Linked DNA regions of Homo sapiens: region 1 is linked to region 2. The links come from fine-mapping of genetic effects on gene expression. A gene starts in region 2. The other region holds a variant in brackets. All regions are shown on one strand. Distances are from middle to middle.

The links. PIP is the estimated chance that this variant, and not a neighbour inherited with it, causes the effect. A credible set is the group of variants that fine-mapping cannot tell apart.
Region 1: its variant is the best candidate, but not a certain one, in a credible set for the expression of BMPR1A in prostate (GTEx, PIP 0.86).

What each region holds. Positions count from the first base shown.
Region 1 is chr10:86,927,682-86,933,057 of GRCh38, forward strand. It overlaps BMPR1A (bone morphogenetic protein receptor type 1A), which reads left to right. Exons shown (of 13, transcript NM_004329.3): 13 at 1-288. Among named protein-coding and RNA genes, the nearest start is that of MMRN2, 27 kb to the right of the region's middle. The variant G/T (reference allele first, on the strand shown) is at 2,801.
Region 2 is chr10:86,754,091-86,759,466 of GRCh38, forward strand. BMPR1A (bone morphogenetic protein receptor type 1A) reads left to right here and starts at 2,529. Exons shown (of 13, transcript NM_004329.3): 1 at 2,529-2,829. RefSeq lists a silencer at 2,042-3,011.

The DNA.
Region 1 (5,376 bases), 170 kb after region 2:
TTTAAAAACTAAAATGTAGTATATATTGTATAAAATGGAAATATCATTATTGCTTCATTAGGGGAAACTGTACATAGGCATTGAAAGAAGGGTAAAAGCAAGCAGTTTTATCAGGCAGTTGTAAAACACCAAAAATATAGATTCGTCTTTGACGTGTAACACACTAAATGTATTTTGTACAGCATCTGGTTTAAAAGGTGCCTTAAGAGTTTACCATTACTTGCTTTGTTCTATATACAGATTATGTCCAATGTATCATTTTGAAGTAAATAACCTTATTTTAGTATACTTTAGTGATGTGTTTTGTGATGCTACACTCAGACGGTATTGTGCATCAGAAGTCATCTGTTGAGATTTTTGTAATGATTAAGTTAGTGTATATACATATGTTCCTGAGATGTACACTTCAACTACCAGAAACCCAGTATGGAGCACAGGTAGGTACACGCTTGCCCTGTGGAGATAGAGAACTTCTAAACCTATCACGGTGCAGGGGTTTTTCCTTTAAAAAACAAGACAAAACATTGTTTTCTTTTTCCTTTTTTTTTTTTTTTTTTTGAGACGGAGTTTTGCTCTTGTTGCCCAGGCTGGAGTGCAATGGCACGATCTCAGCTCACTGCAACCTTTGCCTCCTGGGTTCAAGCAATTCTCCTGCCTCAGCCTCCCGAATAGCTGGAACTACAGGTGTTTGCCACCATGCCTGGCTAATTTTTTGTATTTTTAATAGAGACAGGGTTTCACCATGTTGGCCAGGCTGGTCTCGAACTCCTGACCTCAGGTGGCCCACTTGCCTTGGCCTCCCAAAGTGCTGAGCTTACAGGCATGAGCCACCATGCCTGGCCAAAACATTGTTTTCTGATTATGGAAATGTACTCATGGCAGAAAATTTGGGAAACAACAGCAAATAATAAAGCAAATAAAAATCACTCAAAATTCTATTGCCAGACATTATCACTATATACATTTGAGTGTTTCTTTTCAATCTTTTTTTTTGAGAGAGTCTTGCTCTGTCACTCAGGGTGGAGTGCAGTAGCGCGATCTCGGCTCAGTGCAACCTCTGCCCCCTGGGTTCAAGTGATTCTCCTGCCTCAGCCTCCCAAGTAGCCGGGATTACAGGTGTGCACCACCACGCCCGGCTAATTTTTGTATTTTAGTAGAGATGCGGTTTCACCATGTTGGCCCAGGCTGGTCTCGAACTCCTGACCTCAAGTGATCTGCCTACCTCAGCCTCCCAAAGTGCTGGGATTACAGGAGTGAGCCACTGCACCCGGCCTTATTCTTTTTTATGTTGCATTTTTTGTAATATTAGGATCCTAGTATGCCATTAAATAGCCATTGAGAACTTTTTTTTTAATGACTGCACAATATTTGACTAAGAAGATGGAGTAATTTCTGTGCTCAATCCCCTATTGAATATTTGGATTATTTTCATTGTTTTGAAAAATAGATATTAAGCATCCTTATACATAAATCTTTATTTTCTTATATTACATTTCTGAAAATGAGACTAGTGGATATGAACTTTTAAAAGATCCTTTAAGATGGAAAAACTAAGGTTCTTGGAAAACATTGCCATATTGCTACTCACAAAGCTTTTCATTTTCATTCCTGCTAGCAGTTCATGAGCTTAGAGCGATGGGATGCATTTACCTGGCCTTAAGATGCTCCTGCTGCAATGGGAAGTGAAGCCTTGGATAGCTTTCCTCCTCCTGTGCAATACTTTCTTGTCATTTTCCCACCTGCACTGAGTCCCACCGCCAGTCAGGGCTGTTTTCAGGTGTATGTGAATTCATCCCAGCAGTGTGCCTTCTGCTGCCTTTTCCTAGGGAACTGAACATGTTAAATCACAGACGCGATGTGGCACTGATTATTGTTCCTCAAAAGAAATGCGTGTCTGAAGATAGCCTCTTACAGATTCCTCACGGGAGTCTCTGTTCAGTGTCATTGTAAGTTTCTCAGAATAATCGCAGGCGCTCTGATGCAGCCTGGTAAAGAAGACTCAGTGATTTCTGGGAACTGCAAATGCTTGCCAGCTTTCCTTCTGTCTGTGGAAACACTGAATAAATGTATTCATTTCTCCTTTCCAGCAATCTGTTAGTCTCACTGCTCCATTCCAAGGTTTCTTTAATATTATTAACAGAGCAGACATTAAGAAACAGAATTGTCTAATCCTTGTTCTTCCAAAATAGGTTTAATCCTTGTAGATAGTTTCAAGCAGACAGTAAGTCAGTTACTAAGTTTTCACTTGGAGAAACATTTGCTGATAGTAGTAGCATATTGACCATTTCTGACATGTCATCCTTATATCAAGTTAGGTGCACGCTCCTACACAGCCTTGGCTCAGCGCTTGGAGCATACAGTCTTGACTGGGTGGACATAAACCGCTGAAAGTGGCCAGCAGTGAGCAGAGGCCACCTACTATCAGCGGCACTGCTGCAGGCATGGAGACTTAAATGTGTGAGTGCTGGTATAAGCAGAAGTGGGAGAGTCACCTCGATGCTGGGATCCAGATGGCGGCTTATTTCAAGTGCAGTGGCACATACAAAAAATATTTTTGGAAGGGAGCAAGGACTAGGGCTGAAAGGTTCATTCATAATCTTTTTTTCTTTTTTTTTTTAGGTGGAGTCTCGCTCTGTCACCCAGGCTGGAGCGCAATGGGGTGATCCCAGCTCACTGCAACCTCCACCTCCCGGGTTAAAGCAATTCTCCTGCCTCAGCCACCTGAGAAGTTGGGATTACAGGCGTGCACCACCACACTCAGCTAATTTTGTATTTTTAGTAGAGACGGGGTTTACCATGT[G/T]GGCCAGGCTGGTCTCGAACTCCCAACCTCAGGTGATCTGCCCACCTTGGCCTTCCAGAGTGCTGGGATTATAGGCGTGAGCCACTGCGCCCAGCCCATAATCTCCTTTTGACATAGGAATTGTTAATTCACATATTCCATCAACCTATTGCTCCTCTGAATCTTAGCAGCTTCTTGGTCTTTGTTCAAATGAAATCTAAGTCAATTCCATATCTCTCAATGTCGCTACATCCACCTCAGTGCTTATATCCTAATTTTGTCTTTTTTAGAGACAGTCTTGCACTGTCACCCAGGCTAGTGTGCAGTGGCTGTTCACAGGCATAATCATAACGCACTGTAGCCTCAAACTCCTGATCTCAAGCCATCCTCCCACCTCAGCCTCCTGAGTAGCTGGGACCATGCCACCATGCCTGGCTCACATTCTAAACATTATGCAGGAAGCTCAAAGTGAAAATCAATATGGAATGTTTATATTGAAAATATTTTTGGCTGGGTGCAGTGGCTAATGCCTCTAATCCCAGCACTCTGGGAGGCTGAGGCGGGCAGACCACCTGAGGTCAGGAGCAGCCTGGCCAACATATAGTGAAACCCTGTCTCTAAGGTACAAAAATTAGCTGGGTGTGGTGGTACTCGCCTGTAGTCCCAGCTCCTTGGGAAGCTGAGGCAGGAGAATCACTTGAACCCAGGAGGCGGAGGTTGCAGTGAGCTGAGATCGCACCACTGCATTCCAGGCTGGGCAACAGAGCAAGACTCCGTCTCTCAAAAAAAAAAAAAGAAAAAAAAATATATATATATATATACACACACACACACACACATATATATATATATATTCAAGCAATGTGAAGAAAATATTGGGCCCCCTTGTTTTTCTTTAATGGAAGAGCCATTTTTAAAAGCCAGTTTAGAATCCAGATGATGACATCTGTTGCTCTACTGTATGACTGAAATGCAGGTCAGTGTTGAAAAACATAAAAAATTGGAAGTCTCCACTGAAAGACCTACACTGCTGTGGGAGGGATTTTAATCAAGACATTTCAAAAGCAATTTTTATTACTTGATCCTGTCCTCATACTTGGCTAGGAGTTCAGCTGGAGATAGAATCTAACTCTGAAGATGATACTCCATGATCTTCTAGCATCCCTTGTCACCAGTGAGAAGTCTGATGTGGATCTAATAAGTGACATGTTATACAGGTTAACTTATTTTCAAGAAATAGAATTTTCTTTTTATTATTGATGTTGGAAGTTGAAACTGGCCATATCTAAATATATTCATTCTGTTTCTTAGTACTAATGGGATCTTTTCTTAGACCTGGGAAATTTTCTCCCATTATTTCTTTTGTTTCTTCCCTTTTTTCTTTCTTTTCCTTTTCTCTTTCTAGAACTTTCTAGAACAAATCTCAGGTCCCCTAGATGTTTCTTCCATAATTGTTACTATGCTTCTCATATGTTTCATCCTACCTTCTACTTTTGTCAGCCCATCTGAGTTTATTTCAACAGCCAAATGTTTTATTTTGAAATGATTCCAGGCTTCCATTAAAGTTTCATCAATAGTATAAGGACTGCCATTTACCCTTCACCCAGATTCATAAACTGCTAACATTGCACAATTGCTTTGTCATTCTGTGTGTGTGTGTACAGGAATCACAGAGACTCATCTTGTAATGTTTGTAATGTCCATGTATCGTGTATGCACACATTTTTTTCTGACCTATTAGAAGCAAATTACAGAGCTAATACCCCTTTATCCCTAAATACTTCAGGGATGTTCTATTACTTAACCAATTATGTACAATTATCAGAACCAGGAAAGTTCACATTGATACAATAGCAATGACCAACAATACCATAATCTATAGACCTTACTGAAGTTTTGCTAATTGTTATTTTGGTGTGGTTGGGTTTTTTGTTTGTTTGAGATAGGGTCTCACTCTGTCACCCAGGCTGGAGTACAGTGGCACAGTCATAGCTCACTTCAACCTCAAACTTTGGGCCTCAAGCGATCCTCCCGCCTCAGCCTCCCAAAGGGCTATGATTACAGGCATGAGCCACCATGCTGGCCTCATTTCCCCTTTCCTTCTCAAAAGGATTCTGGCTTTCCCTACTGCATTCATCCACGTCCACTACCCGCTCCAAGAGAGCTGAGTAATTGTCAAGCCAGGTTTGGGGAGCTTTCTTGATGGAGGGGATGGAAGGAGGGTGGTGCTCAGGCTACAGCAGGGAGAGCTTTTCTGTTTTTGAGCTAAAGACATAACAGGGTGCAGAGGCTGAGAAAAGGAGAGTTCTAAGCAACATGTCACGAGCTATGTAGCCTCTTCACACTGCTTCTGAAATAAAATCTAACAGTAGGAGTGACTTTGACATTATGTTGTGGTTTCTGCAGACAACTTGGGATTGGCCCCTGTGGGTTTGTTAAGGGCATGTTTGTCAGAGTATGGGGGCTCCCTGCTTCCAGAGGCCCAGCAGCTGCTGTGTACCTGGGGTTCAGGGCTGACGGCAGGGCTGGAGTTCTGGCACACAGTGACCCCAAGTGTGTTTATTTTTTTCCTTGTGGTGATGGTTGAACTGTTTTAG
Region 2 (5,376 bases):
ACTTAAAGGAATACCAACACATTACGGAATGTTAACTGTGGATCCCGAGATGTTGCTTTTGAGTTTGGGGGCCAGAACACACGTGTCCAGATGTCTCCCTGGGCAGACAGACCGGAGAAACGGGCTGGCATGCATAAACATGCCAGTAGCCAGGGAGAACAGCATGCCCCACTAGCTGCTGGTAGCCAGGGCGCTGAGGATTGAAGCCTGGGTACTAGCTGGGCCTTATCAAAGGAGAGCGAAAAATTCCTGAAGATTTGAAAAGGAGAGTCTTTTGCAGAGAAGCAAACATATCACGACTTAAAATTTGATGCTTCAATTTTGCTCTCATTTCTACAGTGGCAGATAACACAAGCCAGGGAATACTCATTTGTACATTTCAGAAACTTGATGTACTAAGGTTCCCACCTGAGATTGTTGTCTATTTTATAGACCAATTCATATGTCTAAAAATCCAACTAGACTATAAAGAGCATAATAACACGCTTGCCATGGTTTTCTCTGCCGACACATTGCTCAGCATACGTCAATGAGAGCTTTGACCAATCAATGTGAATCTCCTTAAGCAAAAGGCCCATCTTTTCCTTTAGAACTAAAGCTGGGGCTGGGCGCAGTGGCTCACGCTTGTAATCCCAGCACTTTGGGAGGCCGAGGCGGGAGGATCACGAGGTCAGGAGATCGAGAACACCTATTAACACGGTGACACCCCGTCTGTACTAAAAATACAAAAAGTTAGCCGGGCGTGGTGGCGGGCGCCTGTAGTCCCAGCTGCTCAGGAGGCTGAGGCAGGAGAATGGCGTGAACCCAGGAGGCGGAGCTTGCAGTGAGCCGAGATGGCGCCACTGCACTTCAGCCTGGGCGACAGAGCGAGACTCCGTCTCAAAAAAAAAAGAACAAAAAAACCCCAAAAAACAAAAAAACTAAAACTGGGTATTATGAAGGAAACTTGAGAAAGAAAAGTGACCAATTTTAGTTGATGCAAGTAATCTCACGTATCCTCTTCTTCCTGCATAGCAAGATACTACAACCCATGACTGTCAAACCTGAGACAGCTGAAGAGCCCAGAAAAAAAGATTAGGGAAGAAAACAGAATTGAAAAATAATTCAGAATGACAGAGGCTATCTGCAGCATTAAGGGCAAAGGCGGGTAAAAGAAGAAAAGGGAGACAGAATAAAAGATAAACCAAAAAATTGAAACAAAATACACGGGAATTCAAACATTTATACCAGAATATAAGGGAATACCCTGGAATCTAAACACCTCTTCAGGCAAGAATGTGTGTCAATACAAATGCCTGGCACATTGTTTTCCTTCCCCCTTTCTTTTTACCCAGTTTACCCAGTTTTAAAAGTGATTTTTTAAAATGCACCTTTAAAAGAACATCTTTTGTTAAGTGACTTAAACTTGATACATTTCTTGGATTACTAAGGAGGTTAAAGTCACATTTGGTGAAAAAGGGGCCTATCTCCTCTTTCCTCACATACGGGTCATCGAATACTTTTAAAAGCATTTTCCACCATGAATGAGGGGAAATGGAAGAAAAGAGGTGGTGACAATTATTTGCATTTTCCAAATGGACGGAATGAGCCTCCGGAGGGTACACGAGGTCACCAGCGTGAGCCCGCGGTGGAGCTGGAGGCGTATTTATAGCTGGCTGACCTCAGTCCTGTTGGGCCCTCGCCGCTCCTTATCTTATGCCGCTGGAATTCGCGGGCTCGCAGGTCACAGGAGCCCGGGCGCGCCGGGCCTGGCGCTCCCGAATCGATGAGGGAAGCCGCTCTCCCCGGCAGATCCTCCCGGCCGGGGAGCCTCCATCACCCTGCCTGCGCCTCGGCACGCTGGCAAGGAGCCCGGGAAGAGACGCCGGGAGCGGTGGGTGGGCGAGAAACAAATGCAATGTGACTTATATTTTTCTTTGTCGCAACTACCACGACCTGGCCATCCCCCACCTTGGTGACTTGGTGCCTTCCCAGCGACCTTATTTCACGCCAGCTGACTGGCGTTCACCGCAGTGTGAGTGTCGGCCGGAGGAGGGGTCCACGCGAAAGAGCCCGCGAGAGTGGGGATATCCGGCCCCGAAGGCCGGAGCGGGCGTCCAGGGCGCCGATGGCCGCAGCGCCCGGCAGCCGTGTCCACGCTCCCCTCCGCCGCGTTCCATCGCGTGCTACCTACGGCGTCTGCGGGAAGCTACCCGGGCGGCAGCTGTGGGGCTGGCTTGTGGGGAGGGGCCGGCGGGCCCGCGCGGAGGAGCAGCCCCGACTCCCGCCCGCACCAGCAGCTCGGCGCCCCCTTGCCGGCGGCTGGCCCTCCTCCCCGGCAACTGGGCGCCGGGCTCCGCGAACTCTTCGGGCGCTTCCGCCGTGCGCTCGGCTCTTTTCGTGTCCGGGGCGGGGCGGGGCAGGCGCCCGTGGTCGGGTGCGCGCGGCGCGGGCGGGGGCCTTCCCAGTGCGCGCGCGCCGTGCAAGGCCCGCGGACGCCCGCCCCTCCCCCAGGCCCCCGCACCCGCGCCGCCCCCTCCCCTCCTGGCAAGAGTCGGCGGCGGTGGCGGCGGCCGCTGCAGAGATTGGAATCCGCCTGCCGGGCTTGGCGAAGGAGAAGGGAGGAGGCAGGAGCGAGGAGGGAGGAGGGCCAAGGGCGGGCAGGAAGGCTTAGGCTCGGCGCGTCCGTCCGCGCGCGGCGAAGATCGCACGGCCCGATCGAGGGGCGACCGGGTCGGGGCCGCTGCACGCCAAGGGCGAAGGCCGATTCGGGCCCCACTTCGCCCCGGCGGCTCGCCGCGCCCACCCGCTCCGCGCCGAGGGCTGGAGGATGCGTTCCCTGGGGTCCGGGTGAGTTGGGAGTGCGCGTGCGGACCGGAGGGGCTGGCCGCAGCGGGGAGGCCAGAGGGGCTCGGGCGAGGCTGCAGAGGCAGCTGGGCGCGCGGTGGCCGGAGCCAGGGGCTGCCCGGCCCGGCCCCGGCAGCTCCGCAGGCCTCGGCGCGCGCTGGGCCGGGACCGCCCAGCCAGAGACCCACGGCACCCCGCGCCGCGTCCCCCGCCGGCCCCTCTTTTGTCTCCCACTCGCGGGTTGCAGGCCGAGTTTGGGGATGCGGAGTGGGCGAAAGTCGCTCCGGGGACGCTTCTGGAATCCTTAAATGGGAAAGGCGCTCACCTCCCCGCCCCGGAGCGGCGAGGCTGATATTTGTGATTTGGCTCCGGACGCTGTGGGGAGGAACAGGGGAGAACAAAATGAGTTTCGGGCGGGGGTCGAGTGAGAGGAGCAGCCGGCCCGCCCCCGAGTCCCCGCGGGAAGGGGCCCTGGCCCCCGAGCTCCCGGAGCTGCTTCACCTGTTGTCCTGCGCGGCCTCCGCTCCGTGGCCTGGTGATTCCGTACTTCAGTTTTGGAAAACTTTCTGCTGGATTGCCTGGACCCTTTTTTCTCTTTCCAGACTCCTAGTGGAAAGATTTGGCAAGGAAAAAAAAATGAGCTTGCGTCAGGGAAGAAAAATAATATGCTGTGTGTTAGGGTCTGGCGTTTGAGCGTGGTACTCTTTCATGCTCTCAGATGTTTTAATTTGGTCAAACTCCTGCAGGTTTTCTCTTTTAAGCGGTTAACAAACTGTTCAGAGTACATAGTATGAACTTGGCACCTGTGTTACGTCATTTAATCCTTACAACGATTCTGGTTTATTGTATTCCTCATTGTTTTAGGGGAAGAAACCGAGTCGCAAAGAGGTTAACTAACTTGTCTAAGGGAGCTGGGATTTGAACCCAGGAACATCGTATTCTGGCAAACGAATTAGGAAGAAAAAAAACCAAAACTGTTTGCAAACACTTTTACGTTTAGGAACATTTTTCAGTTACTCTTACTTGAAATTATCGCTATTTTGTTGCTGGAGTTGAAAACAACTACTTTATTGTATTTACTTGTGAGAGGAGTTAAACTTTGAATTAGAGTGTAACTTAATGCGTCTCATTGTTTTCAGTTGTTGAAATAAAGAATGTGAACCAGAATTATTTAGATTTTTAAATTTGAAGCTAAAATATGGGCAATTCTCTGATCTAGGAATGGGGTGAGTGTATGAAAGGCCGATTGAAATGTAGAATGCGTTTTTAGTAGAACCAGACTCAGTTCTTGTTTAATTTTTCCTCCATTTTCCGTGGAGCCCACTTTAAACTTTTTCTACTTTCTTCACTTCTCCCCACCCTTTACAGAAGAGGTTGAGGCACTTAGCAGGAGCTCCTTCATTAAATTCCTTCTGTTACTGGCTTCTTAACCTTCCGTCAAAGAGGGAGAATTTTTTTTTTTTTTTTTGTCTTTCTTATTAGTTAACACCTTGGGGTTTTTTTCCTTTCCTTCTAATTTTCCTGCTTAGTGGAGCGTGAGTTATTTTCTCTGTCGTATTTGGGTTCTTTAAAGTACAAATGTTCTTAAGATTTTTTCAGTTTACAAAAACCTTTTCTTAAGTCTGCTACTCCTTCAAGCTGTCTTGTTGCTGCTTTTCCTTTTCAAATCTTATTAACATTTTAAAAAGCTTGTTCGTAATAAAAGTAACACATGGTTGTTAATTGCGAACTAGCGCAACATTGAAATTAAAATTTAGTCATTCACAATCCATCTCTAGAGATTGCCAAGTGTAGTCTGCTTTTCCTGCCTTTGCCTGGTTGGTGGCTAGCCACTCATTTCTTAACCCCTTGTTATCTGGATTTCACCTTCACAAGGAACTATAACCTAATCAACACATTTAACTACCTTTTTCTAAGTCCTCTCCTTGAGTTTTCTGTAAGATTTAACATCGACTTCACATTTTCAGATGCCTCTCCTTGGGTTTCATTCATCTATACTCGCTGTATTCTAACACAGGGTCCAAGGCAGTAAGATACAACAGATCCTTCCCTCATGGAGCTTAAAGTCTAGTGGGGAAATACTTATTGAAAAATAAAGTCTCTAGTTAAATATAATTGTGATTTTAATTAAGGTGCAGAATATTATAAGAACTTCAAATGGAGACCTGATCTGGTGCTTGTGGTGGTGGGAGAATCTGGGAAAGATACCTTAAAATTGCTTTGTTGGAACCCAGGCAGATTGTGAAGGATGAGCAAGAGTTAACTATTAACTAGATGAAGAGGGGCCTTTTGTGACATTATACTGACTTTGTTCCTCTCCGCCACTTTTCTGCCTTCTGTTTCTTCTTTCCTCTTTAATATGCGTTCTCCAAGTTTCACTTTTCAGATCACTTTTCTCTATGTCTCTAGTCCCTTAGAATGATTGTTCAGACCTTTCTGTTGGAATAATTCTCAATTCTTTGTTTATGTGTCTTCTGAATCACGTTTTTTTGTTTGTTTGTTTTGTTTTTTCTTTTTTATTCAGTTGCTTTCTACATATCTGTACCTGAT